Linked DNA regions of Homo sapiens. The protein of the gene in region 2 purifies or fractionates together with the protein of the main gene of each other region. This does not show direct contact. Each region holds a gene or a part of one and is shown on either strand. Other genes may lie near its edges.

Region 1 (4,019 bases), on a different chromosome or scaffold from region 2:
TAGGTGGTCCTCTACTCTATGAGAACATCACATTCGTCTACAACTCGGAGCAGCTGAACGGGACTCAGCGGGTTCTCCTGGATAACGTCCTGTCGGAAGAACAGTGCCGGGAGCTCCACAGCGTGGCCAGTGTGAGGATCCGGAGAAGGAGGGGAGCTCACTGCGCTGGCCTGCCAAGAAGCTGGAACTGCTTTGGTCCTGGTCTCATCTGGAGCCAGACAACAAGCCCTGAAATATTGCTTTCTTGAGGAGAAAGACATAAATTATTTTTGAGGAACTTTTATAGCCTTTGGGTTGGGATTATTTTAGTTTTCCCGGGTGGGATCTGGAATAGCTACTGGCATATTTCCTAGCCCAACAGCCATCTAGCAAGGTCCCTGCCTATCATATAAAGTTGCTGGAGAAATCCTTTTATTTTAATTAATTATTAGGCAATATATCAATAATTTACATTCTTTTTATTTCCATAAAAAGTGACAGTATTTGATAATAAAAATGTAGAATGAAGATTAAATAAAGATATCTCTTTTAATTAAAAGAATAGTTATACCAGCATCCTGGAATAAAATGGGGATGGTTCTTAGCATTGACTAGAGTTCTCAGCTTTCTGGCAGCCAAAGCAGAAAAAGACCTGATGAATTCATAGTTATCATTGATGACGTATCTTCTTGTATTTGCTTCCAGGGAATCATGCTTGTTGGTGATGGATACAGAGGAAAAACTTCACCCCATACACCCAATGAAAAGTTTGAAGGTGCAACTGTCCTGAAAGCACTCAAAGTAAAGTCTTAACTTCTTTTGGGTTTGAGTTCCTTAGTGTCAGCCTAAGGCTTCTGTAAATGGCAGATATAAGAAAGAAAAAAGTGGCCAGGCACAGTGGCTCACGCCTGTAATCCCAGCACTTTGGGAGGCTGAGGCAGGCAGATCACGAGGTCAGGAGATCGAGACCACCCTGGCTAACATGGTGAAACCCCGTCTCTACTAAAAATACAAAAAAATTAGCCAGGCATGGTAGTGGGTGCCTGTAGTCCCAGCTACTCGGGAGGCTGAGGCAGGAGAATGGCGTGAACCTGGGAGGCAGAGGTTGCGGTGAGCCGAGATCGCGCCACTGCACTCCAGCCTGGCCTGGGCGAGAGCGAGACTCCGTCTTAAAAAAAAAAAAAAAAAAAAAAAAAAAGAAAGAAAGAAAGAAAGAAAAAAGTTTTGAATATATACCTATCAGGACAGCTGAAAGAAGCAAGAGTGAAATGAAACCTTCATTGTAGTTAATCATTCCTCCGTTCAGCCATCAACTTATCAAACTTTACATTTCCTGACAAAAAATACATACAATCCCTCTTTGTAAAATCATGATCTAATAGTGAAAACATATTCAAACAAGTAATTATTCTCTACTGCAGGAAGGGTTGTTAGAGAGGATGGTAGAACATATTATAATAGAAGAGAAGAGGAACCAAGTAGCTTTTAGCTTTCCATCTGTTATTGGGAAGAGTTTATTCCAATGGCACAATGTCCTAACCGAAATCCACAAATATGTAGTAGCCTTCCCCATTAGTCAATACAGACATGACAATCCTATATTGGCTCAATGCAAGCTAGTGCCTGTTTTTCTTACGACCTCCAATGAACCCATTTGTTTCTCATGTTTTGTTTTTTTTTTTCAGTCTGGTTATGAAGGTCGAGTCCCACTGAAGAGCGCTCGTCTGTTTTATGACATCAGCGAAAAGGCTCGAAGGATTGTAGAATCTTATTTTATGCTGAACTCAACTCTGTATTTTTCCTATACACACATGGTCTGCCGAACAGCCCTGTCTGGTGAGATTGCAGTCTGAAATGGTTCCCTTTTACCCACAATACATTGGGAAATGAAACAAGGCAAAACAAAGCTCAACAGCATGGTAGATTAATATTTTAGACGAATTCTAGATTTCCAAAACAAAAGTAGCTTATGAACTCTTATTCTGCTTCTTTCTTTTTCTTCCTTTTGTTCTTCTGAAGTTCCAGAAAACCCTCGTTCTGAACATTTTCCCTTCCAAATCAATTTTCCCCAATTGCTGAAGTCTTGGGAAAAAAAAATGCTTTTCTGCTGTAGGTTTCCCATTTTGAGGAATCAGGAACATGGAAATCATAGTCACCATGATGTCTACCAGCATTAAGTGGAAGCATAGAAGATGAAGGGATGATTGAAAGAAATACTCTTAAAAAGACCGGGACCTTCTCGGTCCCTGCTCAGCATTATTTCTCCTCTATGTCTTATGCCCCTCTGAATGGGGCGGGGGGAATAATGATGTCATAGGAGTAGACTTTTACACTTGGGAAGTTTTAGCTGAATTAAATCTTGTTTTTTTAAAAAATTTTCATTTCCTTCCCATTGTTTTGCTGCCCTATGTGAAGTACAACCCATGAAACGCATGGAATTTGTTCATGTATGTTTATATCAGAAATAACTTTTATAGCTGAAGAGACAGGTGTGACATGCTCAAGGTTTCACATCCAGTTCATATCAGAACCAGACCAGAATCTCAACTACTTGTCCACTGTTCTTTTATCTGTTCTTTCCTGTTGTCTGCCTCTGCCCATTTGCAAAGATCATCAGGACTGGGAGAAGAGAGATTGTCAGTTACTTTGGTGGAAGTTGCTGCACTTCATTTCTCGTTCTTCCCTATTCCCTTTTCTGGCAGGTCAGCAGGATAGAAGAAATGACCTCAGTCATCCCATCCATGCTGACAACTGTTTGTTGGATCCAGAGGCCAACGAATGCTGGAAGGAGCCTCCTGCTTACACATTTCGAGACTATAGGTATAGCTAGAACCTGCTTCAAAACAAAGCTTTTACCTAACAGTTTTCAAGCAGTGAAAACTGGAAAGGTGCTCTGTTTTGCTTGACGTCGTGTTCATATCTCCAAGGCAGAAATTCTCAAATAATCTTCTGAAGTAGCTGCCATAACCAATAAGTGGCATTATCATCTCACTTTTATCTTAAAAATTGTGCACAGTTTGCATCCCATTTCACAAAATGTCCATTTTGTTTTAATATGAAAAGTAAATTTTATGTTCTTTTAAAAAAATTCCTGTTCTCCCTGGAACATATTCCTTGTGGTATATGTATTTCAGTCAGAATACAAGGGCATGGAGTCTTGGCCTACATAAGGACTTTATCACATCAATTATCTTTATTCATACCCAAGAAGAACTATGTCTGCATTTTATAAATAAGACACTAGAAACTCAGGAGAAAAGAATGTCCTTACCTATTGAGAGAGATTTCAGTGTGTAAGGAATCAGGAGTTATAGTCACCATGTGTTCATCCTTACTACACTGTACTCGATTCCAAAACATTTATTAAGCACCCGCTATCTGCAAGGCGTGGCTAGGCCACAAGGAACTCTTCAGCAAGTTAAAGAGAAAAACAACAACAAGAACAAAGCAAACAAACAAACAAAAATCCTTTAGAGTTATATAAGGGAAAAAGAGAGTTGTAATTAGGGTGGGCACGTTCAAAGGGCTAGATTAAATTAAAACTAGTTAGGTTTTCTGTGGAGGAAGTGAAATGTGAGACAAGCTTTGACATATGATTACAATTTTAGTAAAGGTGGAATAAGTAAACTCTTCAGAGGTATAACTCAAACTCTATCTGATCTTCTCTTTAAGAGTTTGGAGGACCAATTATATCAATGTCTAGTTCAAAGGAAACTTACTAATGGAGGCTGGACAGTACATCACCAGTCTTCAGTATTCTATGACCATGCTCTCATAAGCATATAATAATACAAATAGTTTTCTCTTCATTCTTATAGTGCTCTCCTATATATGAATGATGACTTTGAAGGAGGAGAATTCATATTCACAGAGATGGATGCTAAGACTGTGACTGTAAGTAAACCTATTCTTGAATACTTATTTAGTATGTTTTAGCTCAGTATTGCCATTTTTCTAAGTACTTACAGATGGTTAGATTTCAAATACTTCTGAGCTCAAGATTTCAAGAGGTTAAGAGAGTTTCAGTAAATGTATAGATC
Region 2 (3,134 bases):
GGGGTCCTTTCATCTGGCTCCGTTTCTGGTGCTTCTGGAAGTCTCTGCTCAGCACAGGGAAGAACTAACACGACTAACCTAGGCCTACCCTGAATGCTTCTTGCTAACCAGGCCGAGAGGCCACACACTTGCCCCCCCATCCCCACAAACCAGGTAATGCCAGTTTGCCAGCAGCTATTTGCCTATAGAGATGAGTCTGTCCTGGTCATAACTGTGTGCTCAAGGTGTCCAGGCTTTTGGGGGTGGGCCTATCTGGGTGCATTATGGATGGTTTGGTGGATTGAGGTGTGGGGAGGAGGGTCCTAGGCTAGAGGGGGTATCCCTAGTTAGACTTTGGGAAGCCACCTTCAACGTTTTCTGGAACAAGGCAGGTACAAATAAAAAAATAAAACTTTGGAAAGCACTTTCTAGAACTGAAGAAGGTAAAACCTCCTCACCCCCATCCTCCTGACACCTCCCTCCCACACTCCATAAACTGGACAGACTCACAGGCCCACAGATTCCTCTTCTGGAGTTTATTTGGGAGCAGCTGGGATGATGGGGACCCCACATCCATAGGGCTGGGAGGTCAGGGCAAGGGCAAGGGGAAGAGGAAAGAAGGGTGCCTGGAGAGGAGCAGAACTGGGGTTGCCGGCCAGGCCAGCAGAGCGACACCCTAGACCGGGCCGTAGAAGCGCCGATAGGCCTCCTGAAAGCCGATGTGGTCAGCCAACTCGTCACAGTCCGGATTGAGCTCACACACCTCCCTCCTGGGCTCCAGGGGATCCGGGTAGGGGACTGGGGCTCTGAGACACCCGACGTGGTGGCATCAGCCCCCGTGCAAAATGCCCATCCCTCCTCTCCCTACACATGGGGCTCCAGGGTGCCCACCAGGGCAGGCTGCCTGTACCCCCACCACAACCCAGAGAGGCCACTCCCTGCTGCAGCTCCCCCACAGACCATCCCGGAGAGGCAGGGCCTTGGCCCAGCTCTGCCTTTTCTCTCACCCCAGCCATTGATACAGGTAGCGCCTGGGTCTCTTCACTACCTCGCTGCCCTCCTGCTTGGACACAAAGGCTGTGGAGCAGAGGGGCAGGCATCAGGTGGCTCTGGGTTTGGGAGGATCAGGTGGGGAGCAGGCTGGCCTTCCTGATGGCCAGACAGGAGGTGGCAGGAGTGGGGGAATGAGACTGAGGGACCAGGGTGAGAGGGGAGGGTCCAGGAACCCATCAGGTCCATCCTCATACCTGCACCTTTGCTGGACTCTGCACCGCTGGGCTTCGCACCTGCAAAGGAAAGGGAGCCTGGTTCACCCCAGCTCATCCCCAGGGCCCTCATCCTCCTTCCCCTGCGTCTCGGGCAGCTTGCTCTTCCCTCCTCTCCCTCTGCAAGGGCAGAGCTGGGGCAAATGGATTGAGCCTGCAACAAGGTGGTTAGACTGCAAAGGGACTGCCAGCCAAAGGGGTGAGAAGAGGTGGGCCATGGTGCTTCCTCCTCTCAGCCCCCACTGCAATGCGGCCTGAGGGGAGGTGGGGGCACTCACCTGCCTGGCCAGCGATGCAAAGTGCGGCCAGGGCCAATAGGGCGAGGAGTGTGAGGGCTCTCATGGTGTCTCGGTGGCTGCGCTGGGCTGCTGCTCAGGACTCAGCTGGCCTGCCCCGCCAGCCTCCAGCACTGTTTATACCCTCTGGGCTGTGCCCAGCGATGAGGAGGGGCATGCCTGACCATGGTGCGGGCGGGTCTAGGGGGAATCTGCCAGGGCTATTTGGGGGTCATCCGCCCCAGCTCCGTAGGCCAAACCCCAAAGGATATTGTGGTTGGGAGCTGCGGCTGCTGGGCCAGGGGCCCCTGGGAGTGATGGAGGGTGAGCCACAATCAGACTGCCCGGCTCTTGACACTGCCTCTGGCCCCTCTCTCAGGGGACAGCCCCAGACCCCTCAGCTCCAACTCACTCTTCCTCAGAGACCCCCAGCCTCAGGTTGAGCACTGGCTGAGCTCTAGGGGAGTCTAAAGAGGAAGCGGGGATCAGAGACCTAAAATAGGTTCAAGCAGAGCTGGGCTCCAGCTGTCTCACAGCCTGTGATTTCTACTGTCAGCCCCGTGGGCAGGAGCCAAACCCAGGGAGGGGATGCCTCGCAATGCCCCCGTTCACCCGGTGAGTCACCAAAGGCAGCCTGCTGTGGGTGCAGCTCGACGGCTCAGGCCCTGCCCTGCGCATCCGGACAGGAGAAAGGGTCGGGCAGCACAAACGCCAAAAGCCAAAGCCAATGGAGGTGGGGCCGGGCAGGAGATGAGGTCAGCCGGTTGGTTTCTGGGACACGCCAGGTGGCTGTGACTGCCAGGTACACAGGCACAGGGAAGGGAGGCAGGCACTGAGGTGGGGACCCCCTTCCCTGTGTCCTTAGCAGGCAGGGAGGCAGGGCCTGTGAGGAGCACGAAGATGGAGTGTGCCTCTGCCCTCCTGGCCCCACGATTCTCCTCCTGACCCTGCAGCCTCCAGTGTTAAACACCCTGGGGAGGGACCTGCCCTCCCGTAGTGCTCCGATAAGTAATAGGAAGGCCTATCCTCTACGGTACAGAACATCCCAGCCTGAAAACCCCATCCCACACCTGAGAGCCTCCACTGCCTCAGGTCAGCCCAGAGAGGGAAGACATGTCCTGGGACCTTCCCCTGTCTAACCTGTCTCCTCACTCACCCACCCACCAACCAGGGCTTGAGACCATCTGCCCAACCTGACAAGTAAACAAAGCACCCGACGGGGCAGGCCTGACAGAAGCAGGGCATTTGGATGCTTGAATGCCACAGCTCCATGGTGACAAGGTGGGCAGAGGGAGACTGAGCCAAGTGCCGTTTATGGGAGGGGGGTGGGAAGTTGGGACCACCTGATGCTTGCCTGTGTCCCCAGTGTGCCTCCAGCAGACCTCACCAAGGCTCTCACTAGGGAAAAGTTCTGCCCCCATACACGCCCAACCCCTTTCCCCCTCTGGTGGATCCGGGAAGCACCCATCCTGCCTTTGGCTGCCCTGGCTGAAGAAGAGTGAAGTGGAAGAAGCAAGAGAAACAAAGTGCTCGCGGTTCTTTTTTTTTGAGACGGAGTCTCGCTCTGTCGCCCAGGCAGGAGTGCAATGGTGCGATCTCGGCTCACTGCAACCTC

What was found.
Region 1: the proteins of BGLAP (region 2) and P3H2 purify together in Homo sapiens (affinity purification with mass spectrometry; one large-scale study listed by BioGRID and IntAct). This does not show direct contact.

What each region holds. Positions count from the first base shown.
Region 1 is NC_000003.12:189,970,670-189,974,688, reverse strand, and holds part of P3H2 (prolyl 3-hydroxylase 2 isoform a precursor), read left to right. Parts: intron 1-3; coding exon 4-131; intron 132-684; coding exon 685-780; intron 781-1,664; coding exon 1,665-1,815; intron 1,816-2,681; coding exon 2,682-2,799; intron 2,800-3,797; coding exon 3,798-3,873; intron 3,874-4,019. UniProt on the Homo sapiens protein: Prolyl 3-hydroxylase that catalyzes the post-translational formation of 3-hydroxyproline on collagens. Contributes to proline 3-hydroxylation of collagen COL4A1 and COL1A1 in tendons, the eye sclera and in the eye lens capsule.
Region 2 is NC_000001.11:156,240,684-156,243,817, reverse strand, and holds BGLAP (osteocalcin preproprotein), read right to left. Parts: upstream 1,635-3,134; 5' UTR 1,587-1,634; coding exon 1,523-1,586; intron 1,266-1,522; coding exon 1,227-1,265; intron 1,057-1,226; coding exon 987-1,056; intron 786-986; coding exon 656-785; 3' UTR 501-655; downstream 1-500. Other genes in the region: PMF1-BGLAP protein, read right to left, coding at 735-785, 987-1,056, 1,227-1,265. UniProt on the Homo sapiens protein: Bone protein that constitutes 1-2% of the total bone protein, and which acts as a negative regulator of bone formation. Functions to limit bone formation without impairing bone resorption or mineralization. It binds strongly to apatite and calcium.